3 linked regions of the Homo sapiens genome follow. The protein of the gene in region 2 interacts with the protein of the main gene of each other region in a pairwise test. Each region holds a gene or a part of one and is shown on either strand. Other genes may lie near its edges.

Evidence for each region. The genes of interacting proteins can lie anywhere in the genome.
Region 1: the proteins of CFAP68 (region 2) and DTX2 interact in binary tests that used the Homo sapiens proteins (3 or more experiments, as listed by UniProt).
Region 3: the proteins of CFAP68 (region 2) and COL8A1 interact in binary tests that used the Homo sapiens proteins (3 or more experiments, as listed by UniProt).

What each region holds. Positions count from the first base shown.
Region 1 is NC_000007.14:76,457,687-76,464,719, forward strand, and holds the start of DTX2 (probable E3 ubiquitin-protein ligase DTX2), read left to right. Parts: upstream 1-4,022; 5' UTR 4,023-4,150; intron 4,151-4,253; exon of another isoform or gene 4,254-4,925; intron 4,926-5,758; exon of another isoform or gene 5,759-5,858; 5' UTR 5,859-6,023; intron 6,024-7,033. UniProt on the Homo sapiens protein: Regulator of Notch signaling, a signaling pathway involved in cell-cell communications that regulates a broad spectrum of cell-fate determinations.
Region 2 is NC_000011.10:111,875,120-111,882,540, reverse strand, and holds the start of CFAP68 (cilia- and flagella-associated protein 68), read right to left. Parts: upstream 3,001-7,421; 5' UTR 2,981-3,000; coding exon 2,936-2,980; intron 1,057-2,935; exon of another isoform or gene 1,019-1,056; coding exon of another isoform or gene 926-1,018; intron 174-925; coding exon 1-173. Other genes in the region: FDXACB1 (ferredoxin-fold anticodon-binding domain-containing protein 1), read left to right, coding at 3,409-3,580, 3,829-3,985, 5,530-5,733, 5,902-6,060, 6,437-7,421. UniProt on the Homo sapiens protein: Microtubule inner protein (MIP) part of the dynein-decorated doublet microtubules (DMTs) in cilia axoneme, which is required for motile cilia beating.
Region 3 is NC_000003.12:99,634,499-99,641,604, reverse strand, and holds the start of COL8A1 (collagen alpha-1(VIII) chain precursor), read right to left. Parts: upstream 3,012-7,106; 5' UTR 2,941-3,011; exon of another isoform or gene 2,925-2,940; intron 1-2,924. UniProt on the Homo sapiens protein: Macromolecular component of the subendothelium. Major component of the Descemet's membrane (basement membrane) of corneal endothelial cells. Also a component of the endothelia of blood vessels.

The sequences.
Region 1 (7,033 bases), on a different chromosome or scaffold from region 2:
AGTGGAGACGGGGTTTCCCCATGTTGGCCAAACTCCTGACCTTATGTGATCCTCCCACCTTGGCCTCCCAAAGTGCTGGGATTAGAGGCATGAGCCACTGTGCCCAGCTGACAGCCCTCTCTAAATCTTTAAAAATTCAGTCAGGCGTGGTGGCTCATGGCTGTAATCTCAGCACTTTAGGAGGCTGAGGCAAGAGGAATGTGTGAGCCCAGGAGTTTGAGACCAACTTGGGCAATATGGTGAGACCCTATCTTGACAGAAAATACAAAAATCAGCCTGGCATGGTGGTGCACGCTTGTAGTCCCAGCTACTCAGGAGGCTGAGGCAGGAAGATCACTTGAACCCAGGAGGTCGAGGCTGCAGTGAGCTATGATCACGCCACTGTACTCCAGCCTGGGAGACACTGTCTCAAAAAATAAATAAATAAAATCTTTAACAATTCTTCAGCTTATCCGCCTACCTTCTGGGGCTTCTTGGGTCTCTTCCCAGAAACTTTCTTCGTCTGTAAGCCCGTTTATTGTATGCAATTGTTTAAAAAACACAAATGGGTGCATATTCTCATATTCTCTACCCTCTATTTTGAACGTTCCTTTTTTTTCTTTTTTTCAGACCGAGTCTCAGTCTGTCACCCAGGCTAGTGCAATGGTGCAATTTTGGCTCACTACACCCTCTGCCTCCCAGATTCAAGCGATTCTCCTGCCTCAGCCTCCCGAGTAGGTGGATTACAGGTGTGCACCGCTGCACCCAGCTAATTTTTGTATTTTTAGTAGAGACGAGGTTTCACCATGTTGGCCAGACTGGTCTTGAACTCCTGATCTCAGGTGATCCACCTGCCTCCGCCTCCCAAAGTGCTGGGATTATAGGCATGAGCCGCCTTGCCTGGCTCAAAGTTCCTTTTTGGTTTAACAATAGATCTAGGCCACTGTGAGTCTTCCTCATTCCTTCTAGGGCTACCTAGTGTTCCGGGGTTATTTAACCAGCCCCCTCCTACCAGGCAGTTCTTTTGTCTCTGGCCCTTTGCTACGTATATTAGTTTAAAGTTCACTTTGCAAGTGGCCAAGCCTGTTTCCCTCATTTCCAGGTTCCCAGGGGGCAGACATCCTGCTGCAATTTCAGAAGTCAGCACACTCTTCTCTCTCCTGTCTAAAATACAAAAGTCCATGCCCCCCACTCTCCCTCTTGATACTGTCCTATTTTACTTCTTTTCACAACCAGAACTCTTTATTTTTCCCAAATAAAAATAGTCCGTCTTTTCAGATTTTAAAAATGGAACTCTGGCCGGATGCGGTGGCCCTCACCTGTAATCCCAGCACTTTGGAAGGCTGCAGTGGGCAGATTACCTGAGGTCAGGAGTTTGAGATCAGCCTGGCTGACATGGTGAAACTCTGTCTCTACTAAAAATACAAAAATTAGCCCGGATGCGGTGGCTCACATCTGTAATCCCAGTACTTTGGGAGACCGAGGTGGGCAGATCACGAGGTCAGGAGTTCAAGACCAGCCTGGCCAACATGGTGAAACCCTGTCTCTACTAAAATACAAAAATTAGCTGGGCATGGTGGCATCCGCCTGTAATCACAGTTACTCGGCAGGCTGAGGAAGAATTGCTTGAACCTGGGAGGCGGAGTTTGCAGTGAGCTGAGATTGTGCCATTGCACTCCAGCCTGGGCGACAGAGCAAGACTCCGTCTCAAAAATATATATATATACAAAAATTAGCTGAGTGTGGTGGTGCATGCCTGTAATCCCAGCTACTCGGGAGGTGAGGCAGGAGAATCACTTGAACCTGGGAGGCGGAGGTTGCAGTGAGCCGAGATTGTGCCATTTCACTCCAGCCTGGACAACAAGAGCAAAACTCGTCTCAAAAAAAAAAAAAAGGAAAATAAAAATCCCTGATAAAGGATCAATGACCTTAGGATAATGTCATTCCAGGTAAGTATCTTTAACTGGGTACTTGGTCCTCCAAGATTCAGAGGACCTTGATCCCCCTGAAACTGTATACATAATATTCAACATACATAGTATGTGCACACATGTGCAAACACTCACATTATCTAAAATTCATCATAATCTTACCCCGGCTTCTCCCCACACTCCTCAGATCCTGCTATAGCCTAGTGCATTTTCTCCTTCCTCACTCCCTTCCCTCCATGTGTCCTCTGCCCTGGCCACCAGGAACTTTGTGCTGCCTCCGGAGTGCATGAGGCACTTTCACATCTCTCTTGCTTTACAAGAGCTTCCCTATGCTCCAACTGGCAAATTTCTCTATGGACTGAAAAACCCACATAGCCTTTATCTGTCTTGTGATGTCTTCTCCCCACCCTCAAGTTAGGCATACCCTTCTATGCCCTCCTTTATCCAAACATTTTCCCCACTATATCGTAATTGTGTGTTTAAGTGCCGGACTTTCCAACTAGATACAAAGCTTTCCCAGGAAAGAAATCCTTTTCTTTTCTTCTTTCTTTCTTTTCTTTTCTTTTCTTTCTTTTTTTTTTTTTTTTTTTTGAGACAGATTCCCACTGTGTCGTCCAGGCTGGAGTGCAGTGGCACAATCTTGGCTCAGTGCAACCTCCACCTCCAGGGTTCAAGTGATTCTCTTGCCTCAGTCTTCCAAGTAGCTGGGATTACAGGCACGCGCCACCACACCCAGTTAATTATTATTATTATTATTATTTTTTTTTTTTTTTGAGACGGAGTCTCGCTCTGTCACCCAGGCTGGAGTGCAGTGGCACAATCTCGGCTCACTGCAAGCTCCGCCTCCCGGGTTCACGCCATTCTCCTGCCTCAGCCTCCCGAGTAGCTGGGACTACAGGAGCCCACCACTACGCCCGCTTAATTTTTTTTTTTTTTTGTATTTTTAGTAGAGACGGGGTTTCACCGTGGTCTCGATCTCCTGCCCTCGTGATCCGCCCGCCTCGGCCTCCCAGAGTGCTGGGATTACAGGCGTGAGCCACTGCGCCCGGCCTCCACACCCAGTTAATTTTTGTATTTTTAGTAGAGACGGGGTTTCACCATGTTGGCCAGGATGGTCTCAATCTCTTGACCTTGTGATCTGGCTGCCTCGGCCTCCCAAAGTGCTGGGATTACAGGCGTGAGCCACCGCTCCCGGCGAGAAACCTTTTCTTTTTCTTTTTTCTTCTTCTTCGTCTTTTTTTTTTTTTCTTTTGAGAGGGATTCCTGTTCCGTCGCCCAGGCTGGAGTGCAATGGCGCGATCTTGGCTCACTACAGCCTCTGCCTCCCGGGTTCAAGCGATTCTCTTGCCTCAGCCTCCCGAGTAGCTGGGATTACAGGCACGAGCCACCACGCCCGGCTAGTTTTTTTTGGTATTTTTAGTAGAGACGGGGTTTCGCCATGATGGCCAGGCTGGTCTGGAACTCCCGACCTCAGGTGATCCGCCCACCTCTGCCTCTCAAAGTGCAGGGATTACAGGCATGAGCCACTGCGCCCAGCCAAGAAACCATTTCTGATTCACCTATTCACTCCCGCACTCCCACTACACAGTAGCTAAATAAATAAATAAATATTAAAAATAAATAGGAAAGAAAGAGAGAAAAAAAGAAAAGAAAAAGACAAAAATTTAAATTTAAAAAGGTTGTGCTCGATGGCTCACACTTGCAACCCCAGTGCTTTGGGAGGCTGAATGAAGCAAGAGGATCGCTTGAGGCCAGGAGTTTGAGATCGGCCTGAGCAACGTTGCAGCATTGCAAAACCCCCATCTGTACAAAAAAGAAAAATAAAATTAATTTTAAAAACAAAAAAAGAGAAACAGTAGCACATGTATGTACTGGCACCATGTATGTACTAGTAAAAACTAGTTAAAATTAAGTCAGTAATTAATGAAGGAATAAGTCAATGAGTGAGCAGGCGAAGGAAGAAAACATAGACCGGAGCAGGTGCGCCTTGGGTTGAGCCCTTCCCCGCTGAGCCCCGCCTTCTGCCCGCCCCTGGGCCCTACCGGGACTACATTTCCCAGAAGGCCGCACGCCCCGGGCATGCGCAGCGGCTCGCTCGGAAGCTGCGACGCCGAGTTTCACTCTGGCTGCCTTCTCCTGAGAGTCGGAGCCACAGCCAGAGCCCTGCCCAGGCCGAGCCGGAGCTGCAGCCCGAGCGCGGTGGTGCCCTCAGCCCCGTCCTCTTGTCCTCCTCAGCCTCGGTGAGAGGGCGGGAAGGCCACCTGCGCGTCGCTAGGGCTGCGGTCCCAGGGGCGCGGGGTGGCGCGGGGAGCCGGAGCCTAGCTGGGACCGGAAGGGGGCGGGCGTGGGTGTGAGGGGGACCGACGGCCGGGGCGGCGGGGACACCCGGGGGTCCCGGGAGATCGGGGGTGTCGGGGGGATCGGTCTCCGGGATCAAGGTCCTGAGGGCGAGAGTTGGGGGACTTGGGAGGCGCCGGCAGCTTTGGACGGGACAGGGTGCCGGGTGCGAAAGGGGACGTTCGGATGAAGGCTGAGGGGCTCGCAGGCGGAGGGGCGCGGTTCCGGGTCGCTCGGAAGGCGCGCACCCCTTCCCAAAGTACCCAGAGGAGGGGGTGACGAGATTGCCACCGGCTCCCTGACGAGGGGTTGGTCCTGCTGGGGTCTACCCCCAGGTGAAGGGACTCACTGGGCCGGGGGTTGTACTTTGGAGGAGTTTGCTTCCTAACTCTGCTTCCCTGCTTTCCTGTGGGGGGTCTTCCCAGGAGTTCCTGGGGCCCTGGGTCACTTTTTGGGGTGCGTAAGGGGTGCCGAAAAAGATTTAGAACTCGGTTCCCTTTTCTGGAGCTGCGCTTTCATCGCGACTGTCTCAGCCAGCTGCCCTCCTCCTCCAAGCTGGCTCCACTTCTCTAAGCGCCAACAGCGATGGAAATAAATAGCATGTGTACAGACGCCTGGACCCTTGAGAAACTCAGAATATTTCTGCATGCCTTCCTAGCTCCTCTAGCGCTCTAGAAGGTAGACTTTCTGGTAGCCACCATCCGGGCTTAAGCCATCCGGATAGCAAGCCCTCTGATTCGGTTGCTCTGTGACCTTAAATATTTACCCTCTCTGGTGTGTTGATTTCCTGGATGCTTAGCTGCCAGACTGGCTTATGAAGTCCTTTTAGAGTTTTCTGTAAAAGGGCTCAGGCCAGGCACGGTGGCTCATGCCTGTAATCCCAGCCCTTTGGGAGGCCGAGGTGGAAGGATCATTTGAGTCCAGGAATTTGAGACAAGCCTGGGAAACGAAGAGGATTCCTGAGATCACTGTCTCTATAAAAAATCAGATGGGCGTGTTGGTGGGTGCCTGTAGTCCCAGCTACTTGGGAGGCTGAGGCAGGAGGATCGCTTGAGCCCAGGAGTTGGAGGCTGCAGTGAGCTGTGATCACACCACTGCACTGCAGCATGGGCGACAGAGGGAGACCCCGTCTCAAAAAACAAAAAACAAACAAACTAAAAAAACGAACTTTTTTTTTTTTTTAAGAAAAGGGCTCAGAGCCAGGCGTGGTGACTCGAGCCTATAATCCCAGCTACTCGGGAAGCTGAGGCAGGAGAGTAGCTTGAACCTGGGAGGCGGAGGCTGCAGTGAGCCGAGATCACGCCACTGCACTCCAGCTTGGGTGACAGAGCAAGACTCCGTCTCCAAAAACTAATAATAATAAAAAATTTTAAAAAGAGCTCAGGGTTTTTTTGTTTGTTTGCTTTTTGTTGTTTCTTCAACCATCTCCTTGATTGTTAAGTGGGTGGAGGAAGACTGTTGTACCTCCTGCTCCACCCAGGCTATTGGAAAATAAATCTGGTGATTTTCAGTCCCCAGGCACAGCACACGGATCCAACATCTGTACCTTTGTTTTTACTAACTGCTGTTTCTTAATTTAAAACCTGATCATCTTCTTCCTCGTTGGCAAAGGTGCCTTGGAATTTGTGTCGCTGAGTCAGCAAGCCTTTCAGATTTGCCCGGTTTTTGTTGTTTGTGGTTTGTATCAAGATGGGAACTCAAACAAGTCATTCCTCCTAAGGAGCTGGTGTCTTCATCCAGAAGGGACAGTTTGTGCCAGCTCTCCAGAGAGAAAAGGTGAGAGCCATGGGGACTTGACCTTGCTGCCTTCTCTATCTGGTGCAGAGAAGGTGGGGATTGGGGAGGGTGGAATTTGAGGTCTGCAGGATAAACGTGTGCCCTGGGAGTTGACTGTTGATTGCCACCTGTCTCAAATAAATTGCAGTGGCGTCTTGCCACTGCTTCTCCTGTTTAACTAACTAGTCTTAGAAGATGCTTTCCACTTTAAGACATGCTTTATGGGATAGAAGACACAAGTCACGATTTCTGCATTTGAAGTGGCAGTTTTCATTTCTTTTGTTGCATAAACCCTTACTGGGTGCCAGATAAGATCTCTGTCTTTTGGGAGTGCATTGTTTGGTGGAAAAGACAAAGCAGAGTCAGTGACAAGGTGTTGTCAGTGTGATATATACTGAGCTGGGAGAAATCACAAGGCTCTCCTACCCACATCCAGAAAGGGGACGGTTAGAGGGAAGGTCAGGAAGGCTCCTGGAAGGTGGTAGTTGAGGGGGGTTGTGAAGGAGGAGTAGGACTTAGAAAGTGGGGCACAGTCACCTGGGAGAGGAGTCAGCGTTTGCAAAGTCATGAAGCTACCGGGACACAGCTGGGCTACTGTAAGTAGCTTAGTATGTAATAGAGGAGGCTGGAAAAGCAGGCAGAGGGCTCTGAGCGAGGAGGGTTATGTGGGCCATGCCAAGACTCGGGAGTGGAAGGATTTTAGGAGATTTCTATGAGGGTCATTTTATTAATTATTTTTTTGAGTTGGGGTCTGCTTCTGCTGCCCAGGCTGGAGTGCAGTGGAGTGATCATAGTTCACCACAGCCTCAAATTCCTGGGCTCTGGGGTAGCTGAGGTGCCTACCACCATACCCGACTAATAATTTTATCTAGAGACAGTGCCGCTCTACGTTGTCCAGGCTGGTCTCTAACTCCTGGCCTCAAGGGATCCTCCCATCTCAGCCTCCCAAAGTGCTAGGATTACAGGCCTGAGCCACCGTGCCTGGCCTCGTGAGGGACATTTTAATGGAG
Region 2 (7,421 bases):
CAGTTGCCCATCAGGGTACGGTTTGAATAGGTATTCTCATTAGTGGTGCATCGCCATCCATACTGGAAAAACTTGGACATATTATTCCAATCTGTCCACACTTCACCATGGCCATCTGCATTAACAAGGCTGCCACAGTGTGGGTTTGTGAGGAAACAGGCGAGGTTCTGTCTCTGGGAAAAGACAAGAATAGAAAAGCTTATTGCATAAACCAGAGAAGAGAAAAAGCATCTTTTCCTGCCCTTGTTTTACATAGCCAGGTATAACACAAGCACACCGTACTAATGATCCAGGCTATGTTATGGTTCTGTTTCTTCTTCTCTAAGTCCTGGGACCCTTTGATCCATTCTTTCAATCAGCAACAGTGGGTGACTACATGGATTAAATCCACACCCCCGCTCCCCAGGCCCCGTGAAGAGACAGGAAAAACTTCAGTATTCCCAATACAATATGGAGAATTAGCTAAATTTTTAAGGTAATTTTGAGATGTAGGCATTGAGGGACTAAAAGCACTGCTACAGTCAAAGAGAACAAAAAGAAGTGAGAGTTGAGTAACTAGATAACACAATAAATGAGTAATAAATGATCATTTCCTTCCTTCTAGCTCAAATGATGCCTTCCCTGAAGTTAGCTTCTCTTTCAACTCACATAAAACTTTATCTTTCCCTGTATTTATAACTTTTTACCATACATTAGAGTTCTTTAAGTCTGCATTATATCTCCTATACAGAGCTGTATGCCCCTTAAGGACAGGATCTGTTTTATTCATTATTGTACCCTGTCCTTCTGCCTGTTCTCCCAATCAATCTGGATTGCATATACCAGATGATCAATGTCTGATTTCATTTTTTTTGGTAAGATAAAAGCTCAATCTTTCTTTTTCCCCAAAATGTGAGTCTGGCCCCCTGACTTAGGAAGATGATACCTTTCCTGAAGAAGAGTAACTTGATGCTGAGTAGGTTGAGCTCTTTGAAGATTTCTTATGAGAGTCACAGAAATCCTTACTTGGCTGTTCCATGTTCTTTAAAGATGTCAACAAACCTGGCTTTCCCAGTTCTCCAAGCAAAGAAAGAATCACCCAGATTACCATGGGCAAGTGGCCATGATTTGGGAGTCACCACCCACTTGCCTTTCCACAGGCAGAAACAAAGCCAATAATGCAGCATTGAAGGATGACATCCCAGGTAACTACCCTCATACCATCTGCCTTTGTGAAGACAGATGCATGCACTGATGTTACCAAACAACATGATGACCAGAGTAGCTGGTGCCACAAAGTCCAATGGGCCTGGTACTCATACTGGAGATCTAGGTGTAACTGTCTCTAGGGCTGGAATGACAGACATCACCATCCACTCAGTTGTCCAAGCCAGAAGCCTGGGGCTTATCTTTGACTCTGACTTGTCTTTAATTTTCATCCAGTCACTAAGTCTTGTTGATTTTTGAATCAGACTGCCACCCTCCATTCCCATTGCCAAATTTCAATTCAAATCACTGTCAGCTTTGTCTCCATTATTGCAGTTGCCTCTTGTTTTATCCTGCCATGCCATCAGCCTTGTTCCTCTCCAAACCTTTCTCCACAGGAAAGGAGAATTTTTCAAAGTGAAAGTATAATTGTATCATCTTCTTATTTAAAATCTTTCAGTGGCTTTCCACCGTTTTCAGAGTAAGATTCAGTCTGTTAAAATGGCTTACAACAGAACAGAGAACCAAATACAGCATGTTCTTGTTACCGGAAGGGGTCCTGATCCAGACCCCAAGAGACACAAGAAATAATTCAAGGTGAGTCTATAAAGCATAAGGAAGTTTATTAAGAAAGTAAAGGAATAAAGAATGGCTACTCCATATGCAGAGCAACCCTGAGGGCAGCTGGTTGCCCATTTTTATGGTTGTTGATTATATACTAAACAAGGGGTGGATTAATTCATACCTCCACTTTTTAGACCATATACGGTAACTTCCTGACTTTGCCATGGCATTTGTAAACTGTCATGGCGCTGGTGGGAGTGTAGCAATGAGGATGACCAGAGATCACTCTCATCACCATCTCGGTTTTGGTGGATTTTAGCTGGCTTCTTTACTGCAACCCGTTTTATCAGCAAGGTCTTTATGACCTGTATCTTGTGCTGAGCTATCTCATCCTGTGACTAAGAATGCCTTAACTTACTGGGAATGCAGCCCAGGTCTTAGCCTTATTTACCTAGCCCCTATTCAAGACGGAGTTGCTCTGGTATAAATACCTCTGACATTCTCACTTATAAGTGGGAGCTAAACATTGAGCAAACATGGACCTAAACATGGAAACAACACACACTCCAGGCTACTAACTAGAGTGGGGAGGGCGGGTGGTGTGGGTTGAAAAACTATTAGGTGCAATATACCCATGTAGCAAACCTGCAACCTACCTGGGTGCAATATATCCACGTAACAAACCTGTACCTGTACCCCCATTTGTAAAATAAAAGTTGATTTTTTTTAAAGGCTTACAACGCTCCCTATGACCTGGCCCCTGCCTAACTCTTCAGTCTCATCTGTTACTCTCCCTCCAATTGTGTTTCAGCCAAACTCAACTATTCTGTTTCTCCATCAAGCTTTTGCATATATTGTTCCTTCTGCCTCTTCACGCCTCTTGACTCAGTTAAGATGCACTTTTACCCTGTTAGCTTTCAACTCGGGTTTACTTCATCCAAGGACTCTCTGACCCTCTTCGCCCCCAAACTTGGTAACGTTCTTCTGTGTGCTCCCAGAGCACACACCCTGCCATATCAGAGTTGCCTGTTTTGCTCTGTGCATTCCCCACCAGACTGCAGGCTCATTGAAATCATAGGCCACATTTTGTTCATCCACATATCGTAACCACCCTCACAGTGGCCTGGCACGCAATAGACACTCAATACTCTTTCTTGAACGAATAGAAGATAGGAGATTTAAGCACCTGGAAGAGAAATTTTGAGCAGCAGAGACACTGGGAGGCAGCCATTTCAGACGAGGTGAAAAAAGGTTCAAAACCTTCTGCGTCAGGAGCATGCGAGACACAGTCCAACCTCTTCCTTGGCCTCAGCCCCGCCCCGTTTCTTTCACCCAGAACTCGCCTCACCCCCCTGCGCTAGTGACTGCTTGTGACCTCATGCAGGTGTGATGAAGTCGCTCAAGGCCATGCTTGGGCTAAAGACACTTTGATCTTCCCGAGGGGGTGAAAGGGCGAGGTGACAGGAAAGTGCGCGTCTTGCTTTTGCACTCATAGTTATCATCCACCGGGGAGTCGGTACACCGGCTCGTCTAGACAACCAGGCGCCATGGGTGCGTCATCAACTAGTGACGGGAGAAGACGGGGCGGAGAGAGATCCGTGAAGGAAGTGACGTAAAACGAGCGCCACAGAGAACGCGAGCCGGGAGTCCGTGGAGGCCATGGCCCCTCGGCGCCTCCTGTTGGTTGGGGAGGGGAATTTCTCCTTCGCCGCCGCTCTGAGCGAAACCCTGGATCAGAGCACTCAACTTACCGCCACCTGCCTCCAGCGCCCGGCCGAGTTGGCTCGGGATCCACTGGCCTGGGAGAATCTGCAGTGCCTGCGCGAGCGAGGTAGCGAGCCCGCCCCTCTGCGAAACCCCGCCCAGCGGCCGGCGCGTCCCAAAGTGGAAAGGGTGGGGGCGTGGGGATGTAACCCACGTGGAGATTGTTCTTGATCGTCCCACGGATATTCACATAAAGCCGGCTTTGTGCCCAGACTTGGGCTGGTCTGCACGGTTTAAGTTAGGAAGAGTTTTTCTGTTCCATGTCTTGAGGCATCCTCCTGTCTATATTTTGCGCCCCCAAACTATCTTTGCCAGGTATCGATGTACGTTTCGGTGTGGACTGCACCCAGCTGGCAGATGTCTTTGAACTGCACGAGAGAGAATTTGATCAAATTTATTTCATCTTCCCGCATTGTGGACGCAAAGCTGGCGTAGCTAAGAACAGGGAACTGCTTGCCAAATTTTTCCAAAGGTGAGGAAAGGAGCGCCCTCACAAGGAAAATGTTTAAGATGTCCATAACATAGTTACTGTACCCAAACATAAGGCACACGTGCAAGCTACTATGATATGTTTAGAAGAGACTATAAAGCCCCAAAGGAACCCCAAGTTTAGTTGGAAAGACAGATATATAAACCCTAAATGCTAAATGAAAGTACAAATAATGTACTCTTGGGTGTGTAAAAGAGGATCATTTATTTTTGACAGTGCAAAATAATGAGAGCCATATAGTCTAATGGCTAAGAACGTGCACTTAGAAGCCAGACTGCCTGGATTCAAATCCCAGCCCACCACTTAACAGTTGTTATTTTTTTATTTTTATTTATTTTTATTTTTTGAGACAGAGTCTCGCCCTGTCGCCCAGGCTGGAGTGCAGTGGTGTGGTGCAATCTCGGCTCACTGCAAGCTCCGCCTACTGGGTTCACGCCATTCTCCTGCCTCAGCCTCCCAAGTAGCTGGGAGTACAGGCGCCCGCCACCACGCCCAGCTAATTTTTTGTATTTTTAGTAGAGATGGGGTTTCACCGTGTTAGCCAGGATGGTGTCGATCTCCTGACCTTGTGATCCGCCTGCCTTGGCCTCCTAAAGTGCTGGGATTACAGGCATGAGCCACCACGCCCGGCCAACAGTTGTTATTTTAAGCAAGCTTACTTAATCTTTACATGCTTCCGTTTCCTCAACTGTAAACTAGGGATATTAATAGTAACTAACTGGGCCAGGCGTGGTGGCTCATGCCTGTAATCCCAGCAGTTTGGGAGGCCGAGGTGAGCAGATCACCTGAGGTCAGGAGTTTGAGACCAGCCTGGCCAAAGTGGCAAAACCCCGCCTCTACTAAAAATATAAAAATTAGCTGGCCGTGCTGGCACGTGCCTGTAGTCCCAGGTACTTGGGAGGCTGAGGCAGGAGAATCGCTTGAACTTGGGAGGTGGAGGTTGCAGTGAGCTGAGATCGTGCCACTGCACTCCAGCCTGGGCGACAGAGCAAGACTCCATCTCAAAAAAAAAAAAAAAAAAAAAAGTAACTAACAGCCTCATAAAATTATTGTGAACTGAAAACAGTGCTTTACATGATTATACCACAAGACATGATACTATTGGAGGTGTCCGATGGGGCATAGCTGTCAATAAAGTTTTGACAGAGGTGGTATTTTAAACTAGTATTTGAATTTCAGGAGGGCAGTGAAAAGAACTTTCTAAATGGGAAGAAACAGCCTAAGCAATGAATCATATATAGGAACTGTGCAGATATTGATCTTTCTGTGACATATGCATGAATGACACAAATGCAAAGCAGACCCTGGTCAGCCAATCTTATCAGTGAGTGGGTTGAACATTTAATTTATGCTTCTATTTACTTCCAGCTACTTTCTTTGCATTTTTTGAGGTCTAATAGATTTTTGCACATAGGTATGATTGGATTTTAATTATTTCACAGGCAAACCATGTGTATGTTGCCAACTCCTGTGGTAATTTCTGCTTGTTTATGATAATTAGTTAGTGTTTCTTTTCTCCCTATTAGCTGTGCAGACGTTCTTGCAGAGGAAGGAGAAGTCCACGTGGCATTATGTAGAGGACAAGGTGGAACTCCTGCGGATAAGCCCCAGAGAGAATGGCACAACAGTTGGCAAGTGGTTGCCATGGCAGCCCTGGGGGGGCTCATTTTAAGCGACGTGTATCCATTCAGCTGTAAGGCTGTGGCAGGGTACAAGTGCACTGGATATAGGTAGGTAATAGCATAGGTTTAAGCCTTCTGCGTTTTCATCTCTCTCACTAATGATAACAAAATCTCATAGACAGACTCAATAGGCCCTGCCAATTAATTGATTCGGTCTCTAAAAATACTTGCTTATTTTAATAATGACAGACTTCATATTGGTGTCTATTTTGCCAGGAGTCAAGATAAGTCCTTTCATGTAGAAGGTGCTTTGAACCATATCTTCACCAGGAGCTTACCTTTTGAAGGTTCTCAACCCAGAATCTTCAGGATCAAACTGGGTAACCAGTGGTTTTCCTTTCCAGAACCAGAAGCACTTGTAGGAAAGTTGAACAGGTAACCAGTTATTTTGCTGGAAATCACTTCCATCTCCAGTTGTATCCTGATTGTCTTGATGGCAACCATATATTGAATGGATGGTGCATAAATTGTTAGTGATGTTGGTGCTATGTTTATTTGTCAGCCTGGCCTCCTTAAGCATCTCTAGAATTATAAATGGTCACATTTTCTGATATATTGTAGGGATGGTGGCTGTCAGAGTTCTGAAATACACGTCTGTTTCTCCTTATGGTAGATGATTTCTTTGTTTCCTTTCAAGATCAATTTAAAGATAATTCTTTTCTGTCCAGCTATTTGTATTTTTAATTCTAGCTACATTATAATTATTTACTATCTTAAGTTAGAAAAGTTATTTTTGTGTGTGTTTAAACAGGGGTTTCCTGGAAGCACCTTCATGTCATCCTATCAAAACCATAAATGAGAAACTCATTGCTGAATTAGGCAAAGTTTTCCCGCTAAAAAGGCTGAAGTGTTCCTACCCTTTGCTGCCACAGGAAGGTACCAGTGTTCTTCCTTTCTGGAATTGTGACTTTCTGTCAGCTGCTTTTTGGATTAGTCTCCATGAAGATAACTCAAATTCTGAGTCCCTGACTGGTGGGACATCACAAGATGTGGAAGACTTTCTAGTGTCATTTTCAGAACTTAGCCTTCTCAAGAATCCTGGAAGAGATGGTAAAGAAGAAGCTTGTGAAGGAACCTGTGGCCAGGCCAAGATCTGCCTTAGACCTTCTCTCCTAGTGCATGTTCAGGATGTCATCGAAGTACCAGACTTCCTCTCAGGTTCTCTGCACATCCTCAGTGGACCTGTCTTTCAGAAGTGCCACATTTTGCCTTTCACAATGCCAGCATTTCATGAAACTTTATTTATCCTTGGGGTTAATCAAAATCTGAAGGATGGCTGTCTTCAATCACTGCTGGATCATCTGAAGGGCATTCTAGATAGCCTGCTGACCCAGACATTGCCGGAGAGCTCTAAGCTGAGCAGTTTAGTCAAATTTGTCCTTCAGTCAAATGGAAAGGATTATATGATTCGTGTGAAGACTCATAATTTTAGCCCAGATTGTACTGAGGATCTAATTATTGGGTCTGTTATCACATCTGCCACTAGTGTTATACATAAAGACCAGTGTTTTGTGTTTGTGTCTATGAACTTGGACTTATTAGCCATGCTTGTCTGGTGTATCTCTGACTGGAGAATGTTGTGGACGTTTGATAACCGTTTCCTGAAAAATTTTGTCCCTGGCAAAATAGAACCCTTTAAAAGTCATTCTCTGTATCCTCCATGTTATGTGCATGATGTTAGTTTTTGGATAGATCAGAAGAAAGGATTTGATGAACTAGAGTTTCACACTGTGGCC
Region 3 (7,106 bases), on a different chromosome or scaffold from region 2:
ACTCAACATTACACTTTTCAGGAGACTTAGGGTTGGTTTTGTTGACGTGACCCATCTGTTAGTTAAAAACATGTTTTAAGGAGTTTTTTATTTTAACTCATAGTATAGCTTTTAGAATTATGACTAGCAAATTACTGTGGGTTTTTAAATATGGGGCAAACCTGAAATCATTTTCATCATTAGAACCAAGCTGTTCTTTTCTGCTAAAGAAGGAGGGCTAAGAAGAAGGGCATAGTAGAGATGGATCTTATACTCTCATTGATTAAAAAACAACAAACAAATAAAAAGACAAGAGCAGACATGGATTTTTGCTCTTCCCCATCCCCTCATGTTCACATAAATGAGGGTTGGGAGAAGTTGCGTTTCGTAACAGAGCTCCTAATCTTGCTTTTCTCCTAGGGCACTTCTGTGATTCCTCCAGCTTCTCTTTCAAGTCCCTTTTCACCCCAATCCTCTTCTCCTTGATTTTTATTTCATAAATAGGAATAAAGTGGCATATGTTTTCTGATCATGAAAAGGATATCATTTTATAATTTTGACAGTAGTAGAACATCTAAAATGCACATTTCTGTAGGATCAGCAAGCCCTCAAAATCAGTAGAGCTCCCTTCTTGTGTCTCTAGTGAAAGCGGCAGCTTCTCATCTTATCTTTTCTGAGAAACATTAAGAAGTCCTCCCAAGTCTGCCTCAATGGCATTGGTTGGGTATAGTCATGGACTTGATCAAGAGGCAGCTATATAATGGCAAAAAGAGGAGACTCACGTGAAGTATCCACATCCCATGCAGAAGGGGAGATTTGGGGGCGACTACATGAAACTTCGACACTGATTTTTCTAAAAGCTTAAGAAGAGCAGTGTCATCTTGCTTGGTATGTACCCTATGGAGAAAGGATAGCTTTGCTCCTGGGAAACTTAGATCATGAGCAATCTAAGATGATCTCACTCAGTTATTTAGGGGCTTGAACTTGATGGGACATAGGGAAGGCAGTTACTGTTTAACGGTCCATAGCTGGTCCGGTGGATTAATTGCCAGAGAAAGCAGAAGTAAACCCTTGGAGAATACTTTTATCCCCAAACTTAGGAATAACTGGAAGCTCATTTAAACTGGGAGCATTTCCCCCTCCACCCCAAGAAAAGATAACTTCCCTCAAGGGGATCTGGTGAATGAAGCAGCGTATTTTCATCCTTGTGATAATGGGTGTGAGTCAGGCACTACCATAAAAGAAGAATTAACTTGAATGTGCCACATACTTGGTCTGGCCTTGTCCCATACCTGTACTCTTGTCATGGTTGATTACCTATGTGCATCAGATATAAAGCAAGCAGTCTGCATTGTGGCATGAGATAAAAGGTATGTTAATATGCTCAGGTCACATACTATCTTGGCCAATAGTAATTTTATATAATTTGCTTAAAGGAAACTGCACTTCTTGCAATATTTTTTTCCAATGAAGAAAAATTTAACGTGACAGAAGCTTTATATATAACTCTTGCATTTGAGTAACAGCATTGAATCCTCTCCATCTCAAGCAGAACTTTTAAATATTTTTATTACTTTTGATATGCAAAAGCTAAGGAGAAATGGTTTGGAAGACCTAAGTTAAATTTCTAATGAGTCTTGTTTCTTTAATAGGGGAGAATTTCATACAGCTTCGGTGAGTTTTTTCTTTCCACATGAGATAATATAAACAAACAAAAAAATAAAAAAGTGAAACATTTCTCTTCTTACTTTAAGAACCTTAAGGGCTAAAAGAGTGGTTTGGTTTCCTGACTGGTACTTTTGGTTTGCCTTCTCTAAGTGGTCTTGAGCAATTCCCCAGAGGAAACATTTGAAGAGGGTTTTTCTCCCACTTGAGAGAGTTTCATCCCACACAACCCACAGAATTTGATGGCAAACTTCATGGACCAAGTGTCTGGTTTTACAGAAGTGGCTGTGGAGTATGTTTTTCCTTTCACAGGTGCACATTTATTCTACCTTAGGAATAAGAAGAGATCATTTTCTTTTAAAGAGGGTAGCTTAAACACTGAATATCTCTGATAATTGGATGCCAGTCAGGTAGGTTGTGATTTACTAAATGCGGGGGAAAAAAGGTGGAAAGAAGGATTAAAACTTCCAAAGCCTTTCTCGCTGATCTTTCTTTACAACCATCTGGTGTGCACAGAAGTATTGTATAATCTGGCCTGTATTATTCTCTTACTGTGAAACATATTGAAACACTTTATGTTTAGGTGTGTGTACAGAAATTCATGAAGTTCTTTTATACACTTTCTTAGTTCCATCGTAATTCTCATTTTAGGATGTCGTGAAAAGATAGCCTGGTGAGAGAGCACATTCTACCCTGGCTTGTGAATTTGGATTTGTTCCTTCCTATCTACCAGCCACCTGATTACTTACTGTCCCCGTGCAAAGGGCACCCGTTCACATCATTTTTTTCCAAGCGCTAAAACCTGGAAAGATATTTTTTTAAAGGACTCACAGAAGCTGTCTTGGGGGTTTGGAAAACATCACAAAATTGTTAGCAGACCTTTTGACTGTGCTATTTTTAGGAAGTTAACTGTGTTCTTTTAAAGTACATTTTTGACAATGGGACAACGTTTTCCTTGCCCCCACTGATGTGTGAAATATGTACAGTGAAAAACGTCAGTACAACACCCCAAACAGATACATTTTAACCTAAGCAACAGTCAGCAACAGGAGAAAAAGTGATTTAAAAAGAGAAAGGTTTCGCAATATTTATGCTGCTGTTTCTTCCCTGAAGGAGCTTTTATTTTACCATTCAAACAGAAGTTTGTTTTCAAACCAGTTGCTAGTTAAAGGAGCAGCGGATCGCGCATCCGTAAGAATCAGCTCTAACCAAACAGCAAACGCGTTGGCCAGAGGGTGACTTATTCCCCCATAGCAACCCCTGGTAGGTGAGCTGCCTGCAGAAGTGCTGTCTTACCTTGAGCACGTAAGATCAGGGAGAGAGGCTCGCTGGCTCCCACGGAGAGGATCGGGGAAGGGCTGTGATCCGCTGCTGGTAACATGCACTTGGCTTTTATGGGCAGGTGGGAGGAGCTGCTCCTCATAGTAGGTGGGCAGGGAAGGAGCGGCGGGCGGGCAGCCTCTGGAGGAGCTGGACACTCTTCTCTGGGGAGGGGCGGGCAGAGACTGGAGCCCGCAAGGCGGAGGAGAGACGACGGGGCGGGGGGAGGGGGAGCGCGGTCACAACGGAGGAAGGAGTGGAAAAGGGAGAGAGAGGGAGAAGGGAAAAAAGAGAGGGAACTAGAAATAGTGAAAGGGATCTTGACCACAGATGGGGAAAGGTGGGGGAGAAAATGAATAGCAGAGACAGAGAGAGAGAGAGTGTCTGGGAGGAAAGGGGAATCGGAGTATTTTCCGTTTTTGCATGACATTTTTTGGCAGAGGGAGTTGTGGGTGATTGTGACTTTTGAAGGTGTTTTCTGTGAATTTGGGAATTTGAAAAGCTACATAGCGGTCCGGGAGAACTGAAGGGTTTCTAAGCGAGGCAAGGGAGGTGAAGCTGGGCGTCCGGGCAGCAGAGCCAAAGTTCAGGGTGGACCCGGACCTGGAGCTGGAGGCACTGACATGGCCTGGAGCCAGGCAGCCCCCAGCCCTCAGCCCCGTCCCACCGCCCGCGGGTGAAAATCGCCCCATCCCTCTCCCTCCAGGCAAGGCTTATTTGACAAGGAAGTTCCTGCGCTGCCTGTCCTCTGAGCATCCAGAGGCCCCTTTTGAGACTTCGGCAGCATTAAAGTAAATCCAGCAACGGGGAGGATTCGCGTGGACTTGCTTGTGGAGACAGGAACCTCAGAACCAGCCTGGGTCTTCCAGCATCTGCTTATGTAACGTAGGATTTCAGAGCTCTCTGCCCTCTGGTTATTTTCGGTATTTAAAACACTCTCATTCCTAACAATCGGAAAACGTCTTGGTGCCACAGTTCTTTCTCAGTGTGTCTTAAACATTAAGAGAGGATTCAACCAACAAGTGGCTAAAGGATCAGTCTGAAATTACTAAGAAATGCATTCAGAGAAAGAAAAACAAGCTCCTTTCGCTGCTGAGTGGTGACTCACTTCCTAGCCCAAGCCTGATTTTTGCCACCAAAGGAATTAAAGCATTTTAAAAGAGAACCTGAGACTTGGGGTGGGAGATACAGTACCGGGAGGGGGAAAAGGCGGGAATGGGAGGGGGGAGGGATGGGTAGGCTGGAAATAATAAAGGAACGAACTTGTACTGAATATGTATATATGTACTTCATTCAGTGTTCACCGCAACCTTATGAGGTAGGTATGATTCATATTGTGCAGATTTATTTATTTTTTTTTTAATTTAAAGAAAGGCATCTCTAAGGGTTTAAATAACTAGCTCAAGCTAGCGAGAGGGGGAGCCACAGCTAGCGAGCTTGCAAACCTTAGGCACTCTTCAGTACACCAGGCTGCCGTATAGAACACCTAGGTTCGTCTCAGGTTAGATCCTGATGTCATTGGCTGGTAGCAGGCTCCAAGAGAAGGAAACTTGATGGTGAAGAGCAGAATTACTCAAACTTAGCACTACTGAAACTTTCGGGAGAATATTTCTCTGTTGTAGGGACCTCTCCTGTGCACTGTAGAATGTTAAGCAGTGTCCGTGGCCTCTACCCACCAGATGCCAGTAGCAGTACCCACTCCGCACTCGCCACCCAGCTGTGAAAATAAAAAATGTCTCTAGATTTAGCCAAATGTCGCTGAGGGACAAAATCCCCTCCTCTTCTTAAGAACTATTCGTCTAAAAAAGGCCCACAACTATAAAAAAGCATTTTAAAAGAATCTATTAAGAAAATACCCAGTAGTGCCATTTGGATAATAATAATACCTACGTCCATATGTGCCGAGTTTACACAGCACTTAGGTTTTTACATACGTATTTCCATCTGTTAGCTTCAAGAGCTCAAAGCCTCAATTACTTCCTTTGTAACTAAGCTTATTCTCAATTGGTTACGTCTGGGAGTCAACGAAATAAACTCCCATGTGCCCGGGATATGAGGCAAGAACAATCATATATGAAATAAAAAATTTAAAATTTTTATCGTAAACACAAATTTGACACCAGAGTTTTCAAATTTACTCACGATGTTTTGCATTATTGATTATTCGCCTTTTTATAATTTTTTATCTCTATGTTCCCTATTCAAATTATATTCAATAATTTTTTGGCTGCACAAAGTTATAACTAGTGGCTTACTAGCTAGTAAAAAATAAGTGCTCAATAAATATGTATAGTCTCGCTAATTGAATAAACAGCAATATTGAGGACTGACAATAGAGAATGGTCAGCATTTGTTAGTTTAATGAATGCTTAGAAAGCTAAAACTTTCACATCAACTTTCTGCCCGTTTGCTGTTTGGTTTTACTCTCTTCTTACCCTCCATAACTCAGTTTTCCTCTTCCCAAATAGTATGTCTTTTGAGGATGTGGCCAAATCTACTGAGTGAAGTCTGTCAAACGAGTAACACTTGTTACTAGACCTAGAAATAGGACTGCATTATCTATTCTTGGACATAACGCTGAAATCAGATGTGATTTTACAAGCACAATACCACTTTTGGAACTTTTTAATTTAGCAAAGAAATGTGTTCTGGGGAAACAAAATGGGACTTTTAGAGGAGAAGCTGGGTGATAAAGTATGTTAGTAAATACCCTTATCAGATTACAACAAATCATCTTTTCTATCCTAAGTTAATTCTTCTCAAACATTCCAGTTCCATCACATACGTATGAAAAAAAAAAAATACCAGAAAGGCAAGAAAAGCACATTTGAAGAAAAGACAATTGATGGCTGTAGGCTGAATTTCTCTTCTTATTTTTAATTCTTTCTTCCTTTCAAACCAGCCAACATAACAAAAGCACTGCTTTCATTTTTTTGGATGGCACTAATAATTAGTTCATTTCTCCCATTCACACTTACCTGAATCTGATTCAGTAGCAGATCTGGACAACAAGTCAGGAATCCAGGAATGTCGTCTCTTTGCTGACTCTTAGTGTGCCCTTCCTAGAATCTCTCTGAAGGTGACTGAGGTTTGAAATGACCTAGTTTGGTCTTCTGTGGAAGGAAAGGAATCCAATGACAACATACTAGATGCTCTGAAGTTTCCATTGTGTGGCTATAACAGCTACAGATCATTACCTTACTTTTGAGAGCTTTGCAAATGTAACCCTTTTTTGGAGTTTATTTAGAATTAATCAGTTAACAAATATTTATTAAGAATGGATATCAGACAATGTGAGGTATTCAAAGCAGAGGAAAATATGACATCTTTTCTCACAGAGGAAGAAAAGCATGAAATCCTGATAGTTGAATTTTAGTAAAGAGACTTCAGGGAGGAGGTGGCATTTGAGCTGAGCCATGGAAAGTAGCATTTGAATAGACGAGTGATGGACAGTAGTACATTCCAGGCAAGGGAGGATATGTGTGCAACCAGGGAAATCACAGGAATATTCAGAAGGTGGTGAATTGGCCAGCATGACTGTATAGAAAGGTCCATGTGGTAGAACAATGAGGCTGAGAAATGGAGAGGAGGGATGAGGAGGGATGAGGTCACCTCAGTAGTCTGAAGTATAAACTATATTCTGTAGGCAATGCAGAATCAATGAAGACTTTTGAGCAATAGAATGGCATGGTGAAAGTGGCATATTTTCAAGATTTCATTTTTCTTTGAATATAGGGTCTTTATTGTGGCTTTGCAGATAAATGCTTGCCTGTGCATCTCAGACTGATAGCATACTTAGAAATAGAGAAAACAGAGTGTCTGCATCCTGCAGACTTGGAGGCCTGAGCAAGGTGGCAGAAACAGTAGTGGTTCTAGCCCAGTTTTCCCTGGAGTGTCCTGTATGGTTGTAGGAAGGGGGTAGGAAGGCAGGACCCTCTCACGGTGTGGCCAGGGTGACATATGGGATTCACATAAAGAGTGATGTCTTCTCTGTGTGTCCGAGGAGCCCAGTGTCTTTCTCACCTGCTGTAGCTTTACATTATCCCTAAATAATATACCTGATCCATGAGATCCTTGAGTTTTCAAGGATTTCTGGATTGGAAAACAGTGTGATCTGGCTTTAAAAACTGCACATTCACATC